Linked DNA regions of Homo sapiens: region 2 is linked to region 1. The links come from fine-mapping of genetic effects on gene expression. A gene starts in region 1. The other region holds a variant in brackets. All regions are shown on one strand. Distances are between the middles of the regions.

Region 1 (5,373 bases):
TAACTTGGTTTTGTTCCCTTTCCTCAGACCAGCTCCAGACATCCCTCCCCTGAGGACCAGAGCTAGCTTACCTGGTGCCATCTCCCATCATCCAGCCGTGGTCCAGCACCCACCGTAAGCTGGGCCCAGTGATTGTGCAGTTGGATCTCAGGCCTGCCGTCTCGAAGTCCCAGCATAAACCAGTCATCCTTAGGGTTGGTATCCCCATAAAAAATCACTCCCTCTGGGTCCCAGGTTCGAACCTCAAAGGAGGAGGAGGTTCTGGAAGGACACAGAAGGAAAGATTGTGTATGTCATGTGTCCTTTGAGAACCAGTGTGGGTTTGGGGGAGATGGTGTTCACAGATAAGGAAAGGAAGACAGGGAAAAGAGAAGAGCTGATGGAGAGAGGGCAGAACCAGGGGACTGGGTCAAGGGCTAGGCCAACCCCATACTTTGTGATCTTGGTGAGGTCAAAGGTCATGACAGCGATAGGCTCTTGTCCTGGGCCATTGCTGAGGTGGACAGCCGGAGGGTCGTGGGCACTCTATCAGAAAGAGAAAACAAACAAAGCTGAGTAGGGACATGTCAGAGACAGACAGAGGGAGAGGCCCTGCTACAGGGCCAGAGGAGAGAAGGGAAGACTGCATGAGCTGAGTGCCCTGTCCCGCTCCTGCACCTGGGTGGGGAGAACAGGTCTCAGGGCCCATCCCTGGCGGGTGTGACGCAGTAGTAGCAACAGCAGCAACAGCAGCAGGCGCGAGGTAGCCAGTGGGCCTCTGCTCTCCATAATCAGCCACTGTCCACTCGGCGGCTCAGACAACTCTTGGGAGAATGTGTAGAGGCAGGCAGCCTTGCGTGTGGGCGGTGGAGGGTTAAAGGTTGCCCGGGGAGGAGGGGGTAAAGGAAACAGGGGCACTGACCCTTGACCCCTGCCCAGGGGCCCAGTCACAAGACTCAGCTATCACCCCTCTGGGGATCAATGGGGTGAAGGACAGAGTCCCCTCCACTATCATCCTCCACTGCCGAGAAAGTTTCTGAACTGGGAGAGGATATTCCATCTCCCCTCTCCTCCTCTAGGGCCTGATCTAGGTCCTCCAAGATTTCTGTCCACTCGGGGAGCCTGCATTCACAGGCCTGAGGTCTAGAAACAGTCCTCCCCTGCGTCCCAAGTAGCATCCTGTATCAGGACTAGAAATGAGATAATGGAATCCTAAATTTCTAGCTGAGTGACCTTGGGCAAGTCACTTCACCTCTGTGCTTCAGTGTCCTTGTCTGTAAAATGAGGAAAATAATACTTTACGGGGTGACTGTGAAAGAGGGTTCATTGAGAAAATGCAGGCACAGTGCCTGGCATCTGGTCTGAACTCCTCCCCCAGTCTTTTCCCAGGCCTCTGAGGCCTGTCTCCCAAGAAGGTATTGTCTGTGTGTATGATTCAGTGAATATTAAGAAGGGACCTGCCCCCCGCCTCTCAGTTATCTTCCCTTATCCATTTATTACAGGGCCTAAACAGTCTAGCAGTAGAAATCACCCACTCCCTGACCCATTTTATTTTATTTTATTTTATTTTATTTTATTTTATTTTAGACAGAGTCTTGCTCTATCACCCAGGCTGGAGTGCAGTGGCGTGATCTCGGCTCACTGCTGCCTCTGCCTCTCGAGTTCAAGCGATCCTCCTGTCTCAGCCTCCTTAGTAGTTGGGACTACAGGTGCACGCACCACCACGCCCAGCAAATTTTTTTGTGTTTTTAGTAGAGACGGGGATTTCACCACGTTGCCCAGGCTGATCTCGAACCTCTGACCTGAAATGATCCGCCCACCTCAGCCTCCCAAAGTACCTGGATTACAGGCATTAGCCACAAGGCCCGACCCTCCCTGACGCATTTTATTTTATTTATTTATTTTGAGATGGAGTTTCGCTTTTGTTGCCCAGGCTGGAGTGCAATGGCACGATCTCGGCTCACTGTAACCTCCACCTCCCAGGTTCAAGCGATTCTCCTGTCTCAGCCTCCCGAGTAGCTGGGAGTAAAGGCATGCGCCACCACACCTGTCTAATTTTTGTATTTTTAGTAGAGACGGGGTTTCACCATGTTGGTCAGGCTGGTCTCAAATTCCTGATCTCAGGTGATCCGCCTGCCTCTGCCTCCCAAAATGCTGGGATTACAGGTGTGAGCCACTGTGCCCACCCCATGACCCATTTTAAAATGCAAATGACAGACCGGGCTTGGTGGGTCACATCTGTAATCCCAGCACTTTAGAAGGCTGAGGCGGGCAGATCACTTGAGGTCAGGAGTTCCAGACCAGCCTGGCCAACATAGTGAAACCCCGTCTCTACTAAAAATACAAAAATTAGCCAGGTATGGTTGCCCATGCCTGTAATCCCAGCTACTCCGAGGGTGAGGCAGGAGAATCGCTTGAACCCAGGAGGGAGAGGTTGCAGTGAGCCGAGATCGCGCCACTGCACTCCAGCCTGAGTGACAGAGTGAGAATCCGTTAAAACAAAAAAAAAGAGAAGAAAAAAGAAAAAAAAATTAGCCGGGCGTGCCGGTGCGCGACTGTAGTTCCAGCTACTCCGGAGGCTGAGACAGGAGGATCGCTTGAACTCGGGAGGTGGAGGCTGCAGTGAGCAGAGATCGCGCCACTACACCCCAGCCTGGGCGACAAAGCAATACACCATCTCCAAAAATAAATAAATAAATAAATATAAAAATAAAACATTTAAAAAATGCAAATGCCCCCAAGAGGTAACACTTCATGCTACTCAAGAGCTGCAGGAAACAGCTTTCAGAGCTGAGGGTCTTAAGGCTTACCCAGGGTCTGGGCGGGTGAGTGAGCCTGAGGCTAAAGCAGGTTATCACTGCATATGTCAATTTAAAAAGCACTGCGGGGGAGCCTTTGAACCGCGGGGTATCTCGACCCAGGTTGGGACACCCACACAACCGCAAGGAAGCCGCTTCACTCCAACCTTGAACTCTACCCAGGAGCCCAGTCACAAGATCCAGCTGTCGGGGGTGGGGCTTGGGGGGGACGCGGCCGTGCCTGTTCTCCAAGCTGATTGGCTGACAGTTGTGCCCCCTGCTGCGACAGAATTCGAGGGGGTGGGGCTATGCCCGGACAGAGGATCGCCTCGCTGGCCTACTCTCTCCTCCCGTACGGCGCCGGAATCCCAGCTCCACTTACCAGGCCGCGGCTACCCCGCCGTCCCCCCCGACTCCCGCCACCCCGCTCTCTCAGGCTCTTCAGGATCCAAGTCCGTAGGCCCTTTAAGGGGTCTAGTTGCCGTTTGCGAGGCCCTGGGACTTTGGTCCCAGACAGCGGGGATCCGGATGGCTTCCGTGCGGATCCGAGAGGCCAAGGAGGGAGACTGTGGAGATATCCTGAGGCTGATTCGGGTGAAGACTGCAGGCCGGTAACCCGGGGGTCAGAGTGGCGCGGCCAGAGCGGGGTCGTAGGAGGCGGGGGCAGGGGGAGGGGCTCGCCTTGGGAACCTGCTCGGGGAGCAGCGGGGCCCTTCTGCTCTAATCTAGCTTCCGTACCCACGCCTTAGGAGCTAGCCGAATTCGAAAAACTCTCGGATCAGGTGAAGATCAGTGAAGAAGGTGGGGGCTCAGCGCCCAGGTTCTGGCGGAGGCTGGGGAGGAAATGAGGGATGGGTTCCCCAGGCGACAGCTCCAGGCTGGGCATACACCCACGTCCTCTTTCTCTATCTCTTTGTCACAACTCCAATCTCGGCAGCCCTGAGAGCAGATGGCTTTGGAGACAATCCTTTCTATCACTGTTTGGTAGCAGAGATTCTTCCAGCGCCCGGGAAGCTACTGGGTAAGAGCACCTGGCCCTTAGAAGTCCACCTCTCCAGCCGGCCTCAGAGGTCTCCCCACAGGCTTCCAGAAGCCTTACTCCCCTTTTCTCTCTCTCAGGGCCCTGCGTGGTGGGCTATGGGATATACTATTTCATCTACAGTACATGGAAGGGACGCACCATTTATCTGGAGGATATCTATGTGATGCCGGAATATCGGGGTACTGGGCAGAAGCTGAGGCTGGGGTGGGAGCAAAGCACCCCACAGACCCCACTGTTATCCCCTGTCCCCAGAGCCCAGCCGGTGTCATTTTCTGATCCCCTTCAGCTCAAACAATAGCTATTTTTTGCCTCTTTCTCTCCACAACAGGTCAAGGGATTGGTTCCAAAATAATCAAAAAGGTGGCTGAGGTGAGGAGATGGGTGGGGCGACAAGTGAGGACCTGAAGAAGCAAGGGTATATGGAGGGGGGACCCGGGTTGAAAGAGGGAGTGAGAAAACCTTTTTCTTTTTTGACCCCAGAAAAGTTAGTGTTGTCTTCTCCCACAGGTGGCCTTGGATAAGGGCTGCTCCCAATTCCGCCTGGCCGTCCTGGACTGGAACCAGAGGGCCATGGACTTGTACAAGGCCCTAGGAGCCCAAGATCTGACGGAAGCTGAGGGCTGGCACTTCTTCTGCTTTCAAGGAGAGGCAACGAGAAAGTTGGCAGGAAAGTGACGCCATCCCTAGGAGGATCTCTGTCTTGAGTTTCTCCTTCCCCATCAGCTGAAGCACTCTTCAGAGACTACGTCCACAGACACTGATGCTGAGGCCTCCCTGGAGGAAGGAGGGTTAGGGGTGCCTATCCTCAAGTATTGGAAGAGCAGAATTGAGGGAGAGACCTTTCTTCCTTGTTGAGGGTGAAAAATAAATAAGAATTACATGTCCTGATGTGGTGTTGGGTCTTTCTTTTATTTCTTTTTTTTTTTTTTTTTGAGACAGAGTCTCTGTCGCGCACGCTGGAGTGCAGTGGTGCGAACTCCGCTCACTGCAACCTCTGCCTCACGGGTTCAAGCAATTATCCTGCCTCAGCCTCCCGAGTAGCTGGGACTACGGGTGCGCACCACCATGCCCGGCTAATTTTTAGTAGAGACGGTGTTTCACCATACTGGCCAGGCTGGTCTCCAACTCCTGATCTCGTGATCCGTCCGCCTCGGCCTCGAAAAGTGCTGGGATTACTGGTGTGAGCCACTGCACCCAGTCCAAAGTCTTTTTTTTTTTTTTTGAGATCAAGTCTTGCTGTTGTCCTCAGGCCAGAGTGCAAGGAGTGCAAAGGTTTGATCTTGGCTCACTGCAACATCCGCCTCCCGGGTTCAAGTGATTCTCCTGCCTCAGACTCCCGAGTAGCTGGGATTACAGGCGCCTGCTACCACATGCGGCTAATTTTCGTATTTTTAGTAGAGACGGGGTTTCACCTTGTTGGCCAGGCTGGTCTCAAATTCCTGACCTCAGGTAGTCCGACTGCCTCGGCCCCCCAAAGTGCTGGGATTACAGGTGTGAGCCACCGCGCCCAGCCCACAGTCTTTTCTTTTTCTTTTTATTTTTTTTGAGACAGAG
Region 2 (5,373 bases), 800 kb after region 1:
TGGACTCATTGCTTTTTAGTTCGGTAGCTATTACACCGAGCTTTCTTTTCATCACACAGCTGGGTTGGTTCCACTATGTCTTATGTCCAGTATCTTCTTCTTTCTGGATTTTTCACTTTTGCTCTATTATTTTTTTCCATAAAGAATGTACGCTCACCGTTTTGAGTACTGGCATGTCCAAAGAAATCTTTTATTTTGCTCTCATACATGAAATGCTTTGACTGGTTGTAGAATCCCAGATTTGAAATAATTTTCTATAGAATTTGAAGGCATTATCCTAGCATCATTTCTAGCAACCATCATTTCTAGCCACCTGTGTTAGAGACGAAACACTTGATACCTATTCTTTCTTTTTCTTCTTATTCTTTGAATTAAGAAATTCCACCAGAATAGGTATAAAGTTGGCCCTTCCTATCCGTGGATTCTACATCCTTGGATGCGATGACACACAAATAAAAAATATTCAGGAAAAAAATTCCACAAAGCTCCAAAAAGCAAAACTTGAATTTGTTGCACCCTGAGTGCTATGTTGAATCCATGCGAATGAAGCGATGAGTAGGCATGGTTAGACATTGTATTAGGTATTGTATTAGGCATTGTATTAGGTATTATATTAGGTATTAGGTGTTGTATTATGTATTGTATTATGTATTGCATTAGGCACTGTATTAGGCACTATATTAGGTATTGTATTAGGCATTGTATTAGGTATTGTAGCAATCTAGAGATGACGTAAAGTATGCCTATCTAGGGATGTGCGTAGGTTATATACAAATGCTACACCACTTTATATGAGACTTGAGAATCTGCAGATTTCAGTATCTGAGGGGGATCCTGGAGCTAATCACTCTATGGATTATATGCATAATCCACAGGGAGGACTATATGTAAGGAATGGGGGTGTGTGTTAATTTCAGGTGGGTCGTTAATCTAAAGACTTGAGTCTTTGGCTCAAGTTATCTCTCTCTCACTTTCACAATTGTTTTGCCATTCTCTCTCTTTTTTTCTTTCCTTCTGGAAGTCCTACTTGACAAATATTAAATCTTCTGGAGCTATCCCCTCAGATTTAATTTTTCTCCCATATTTTCCATCTCCTAGTGGATGCAGAGTGACTTCTGGAGTGTTTGCCTGAAGGCGTTCTACTCACACACCTGCCCTCACAGAGTGCCCCATCGGGCGCCCCACGCAGAAATAAGCCAGTTGTGGTAACAGACCTATACAAACTCTGGAGGAAACTCATTGTAGCTTACAGAAACAATCAACTTGGCTTCCTGATTTTTAACCCTCAATTTCGCCTGCGACTGCGAGGTCCTGGAGGCATCGCCCAGCCCAACCCCACTGTACAGCCGGGAAGTCTGAGAGCCGGGGTACAGCGCGACCCGAGATGATCCCGCCCGCGGGAGGGCTCGGACTAGACGCAGGTCTCCTGACTCCCAGCTCGGGGCTTTGGCCGCTGTCTTCTGCTTGGTGCCCCGCGTCTTCGCGGTAGGTTGAGGTGGCCGGAGCATCTGGCCCTACCCTTCCCACACGCCACACTCCTGGGTCTCTGGCTCTGGGGTCCGCAGAATTTGCGCCTGCGCTAAGCCTTTGGCCAGGCTGCTCAGTGGCGGAACCAGCCCTCTTTGCCCTGGCAACGCGTCACTTGTTGTCATGGAGACCGCGTTGTTTACCTCTCTGTTCTGCAAGAGCTGGAAGCTCCAGTTGGGGTAAGGAGGCTCCCATCCCGAGCTTGCGTAGTGGTTCTGTGTGGCGCTGAGGTAAGTAAACCATGACCCCACCCCACCGACCCCTACCCGCAACCCTCCCCGCCTAACCAAATCCTTATGACGTTGGGATGAGCCCTAATTTAGGTCCCCACCTCTCTGGGGGCTATTCAGACTTATCCAGGAGCCTTGGGTTAAATGCTGGGCTCCACACTCAGATAAATTCGGTAGAAGCCATAAAAGGGACTGGGCTAGGAAGAAACGGAGAAACTCCATGTTGTCTGAGGGGGCTGGGTGGGCTGAGGTTCTCAGCCTAGTCAAGATCTGACTCTAGTTTCATCCTTATATATGTGAAGGCTTCAGAGATCCAGAGGCCCCTAAGAGCAGGGACTCAGACCTTAGGGTAGAGATGGGAGTGGGGGCAGATTTCAGCCCTGTCTGAGGAAGGCAGTTCTCATGGTCCATCAGAGTTGTATGAAGATGAAATGGGTAATTTTAGCGTTTCCACTGCCGACAGCCTCTGCCAGCTGGCTTCCCCTGTGTTGTTCCCCTTCCTGTTCTCTCCTTTTCTTTGTCCTGGAAGTTTTCAGATTCTTTTATGTGTTGAACAAGTTCAATACCCAGTTGTCAGTTTACACATGTTACATTTCCTCCTCCTCCTCCTCCTCCTCCTCCTTCTTCTTCCTCTTCTTTTTCTTCTTCTTTTTTTAAGAAAACATCTCTGGGCTCATCTGTTTGGCAGAACATTACTCCATGACCCAACAATTCTAATGAGTTATAAAAATGCATACACGTGTTCACCAAAAGACATGTATGAGACTATTAATAGCATTCTCATTATGGCCCTGGAGTGTAAACAACCCAAATATCCATAAACAGTAGAAAAGACAGCTAGATTTTATTCATATAACGGCACCTACACAGCAACGAGAACGAACAAACTGCAATCATATAGACAATATGGATGAATTTTACAAACATAATGTTGAGCTAAAGAAGTCAGAGACAGAATAATACATACTGTATTATTCCATTTATGTTAAATTCAAAAACAGCAAAACGAATTTGTAGTGTTAAAAGTCAGGATACTGGTTACCCTGAGGGGCTTGAGGTGGAGTAACTGGGAGGAGGTTAGAGATGCTGGTAATGCTTGTTTCTTGGTTTGGGTGCCGGCTACACAGATAGATTTATTTTGTGTACAGATTATGATTTATGCAATTTTCCGTATATA[T/C]GTCATCCTTGAATAAAAATTATCATAAAAAAGGACAAATTGCTTTCATTTAATCTAAAAGAGTCTGCTTTTGATCAGGAATTTGGAAACCTCAAATGGCTAAACTATTACAACCTCCACCCAAGTTCCTGCCCTCAGAGTGGCACATTGCTAACAAGAACCAGTACCACAGAGCAGACGCTCAAAGGTCCCGATCAGAACGCCTGGTCGCAGAAAGCCAGAGGCTTGTGGATGAAATTGAAAAGACCACAAGAAAATCTCAAAGCGATGTGAACAAGAAACTAGGTAAGACAACATGCTTGGCATATTCGTGAACATGCTAGGATGAGGCTGTTGAGTTTAGCTATAGTGTCATGTTCAGATGTGGCAACATATTATTTTTGAATATTAGAGAAAATCATGTGTATTCTCCAGGTTCTATGTTTAAGTTCACTGCCCTAAGATAGACACAAGGTAACCCAGCCTGATTTTCAGCCACCCATCATTCATTTATTTGTTGATTTGATGCACAGTTATTGAGCATCTATGGGCATCTATGTACTACACACTAGGCATATCACAGGGAATGATCAGAATCTCTGCTTTTTAGGGGCTTCTAACTTGAAGAGGATAAAGATACAAAAATTAATCATCAGAATACAGTCAGCCCTTTGTATCCATGGGTTCAGCCAGTTGTAGGTCCAAAATACTTAGGAAAAAAAAACAATAAAAGATTACAACAATTAAAGAATACAAATAAAAACAATACAGTTCAACAGCTATTTACATAGTATTTGCATTGTATTAGGTATTATAAGTAATCTGAAGATGATTTAAAGTATACTGGCTGGGTGTGGTAGCATGTGCTGTTAGTCCCAGCTACTTGGAGGGCTGAGGCAGTAGGATCCTGTAAGCCCAGGAGTTAGAGACCACCCTGGGTGATATACCAAGACCCTGTTTCATAAAAAAAAAAAAAAGAAAGAAAAAGAAAGGAAGAATGAAAGAGAGAAAGAAAGAAAGAAAGAGAAAGAAAAGAAAGAGAAAAGGAAAGTATATGGGAAGATGTGCATAGGTTATATGAAAACACTACACCATTTTGTATAAAAGACTTGAGCATCCATGGATTTTGGTGTCTGTCAGGGACTCTGGAACAAATCCTCTGAGGATACCAAGGGACAGGTGTATAACCAGATAGGTGCTGGGGTAGGGGAACAAAGACGGGGCGGAGTAGATGTGAAAAATTGGAAAAGTTTTTCTAGAGAAGAACATTTACTTGAGTCTTAAAAGGAGTCATTTTCTCTTGACAATTCCTTACTTAAAACAGTATTTACTTAAATTTCTTGAGACAGAGTCTCGCTCCATCACACAGGCCAGAGTACAGTGGCACAATCTCAGCTCACTGCAATCTCTGCCTTCCAGGTTCGAGCGCTTCTCCTGCCTCAGCCTCCTGAGTAGCTGGGATTACAGGCGTGCACCATCACACCCGGCTAATTTTTGTATTTTTGGTAGAGACGGGGTTTCATCATGTTGGCCAGGCTGGTCTTGAACTCCTGACCTCAGGTGGTCCGCCCGCCTCAGCCTCCCAAAGTCTGGGATTACAGGCACGAGCCACCGCACCCTGCCTAAAACAGTATTTAAAAGGTAGCGTTCTTTAGCAAAGATCTCAGGAAAGCACATTTAAAAAAAAAGATAGTATCCTTAAATAATCAAAACAAAAATAAACATAAAACAAAACAAACAACCAACGTCGGCTAAATGCCAAAAAGGGATTAACCAGGGGTAACCAACTCGACTATCTATAGGGACCAAGCAGGTAGCATAGGGATTGAATGTAAGGCATTAGGGTTTAGTAGGGACTGTGGGGACCTGGAGAACGTGTGCCCCATCTAAGGAGGAAGCTGCTACTCAGTTTCAACCCATTGCTTCCAAGAAAGAACATGAGCCCAGTGTTGCCTGATTGTCCGATTTTTTCAAGAAAATCTGGAAAGCAGGAATTTATTCACGTTTTAAATGTTGGTAACTGACTTAATTTATTTATAACACTGGGCCAGCTGAACAAACACGTTTATGGATCAAACCTGGTCTGAGGACTGTAGTTTTCTAATTTCCAGTAAATGAAACCTTCATTCAGGTCAGCAATGTTAGATGTTAGGCTCTCCTAATAGGTTGACCCTTACATTGATACCACCCTGTAGATAGGCCTGTTCTAAATAATTGTGCAAATAGGTAGGTGTTAAAAATGAGAAGGCGCCCGGGCATGGTGGCTCACGCCTGTGATTCCAGCACTTTGGGAGGCCAACGTGGGCGGATCACAAGGTCAGGAGATTGAGACCATCCTGGCTAACATGGTGAAACCCTGTCTTTACTAAAAATACAAAAAATTAGTGGGGCATGGTGGCATGCATCTGTAGTCCCGGTTACTCAGGAGGCTGAGGCAGGAGAATCGCTTGAACCAAGGAG

What was found.
Region 2: its variant is fine-mapped to the expression of SAT2 in thyroid (GTEx, PIP 0.97).

What each region holds. Positions count from the first base shown.
Region 1 is chr17:7,625,568-7,630,940 of GRCh38, reverse strand. SAT2 (spermidine/spermine N1-acetyltransferase family member 2) reads left to right here and starts at 3,120. Exons shown (of 6, transcript NM_133491.5): 1 at 3,120-3,371; 2 at 3,527-3,578; 3 at 3,715-3,798; 4 at 3,897-3,998; 5 at 4,148-4,188; 6 at 4,327-4,707. The coding sequence starts at 3,306. The coding sequence ends at 4,494. It overlaps SHBG (sex hormone binding globulin), which reads right to left and starts at 806. Exons shown (of 8, transcript NM_001040.5): 1 at 658-806; 2 at 434-525; 3 at 72-261. The coding sequence starts at 768. RefSeq lists enhancers at 3,132-3,211, 3,692-3,741 and a silencer at 3,422-3,481.
Region 2 is chr17:6,828,033-6,833,405 of GRCh38, reverse strand. It overlaps TEKT1 (tektin 1), which reads left to right and starts at 1,677. Exons shown (of 8, transcript NM_053285.2): 1 at 1,677-1,757; 2 at 3,013-3,219. The coding sequence starts at 3,030. RefSeq lists a silencer at 1,665-1,714. The variant T/C (reference allele first, on the strand shown) is at 2,935.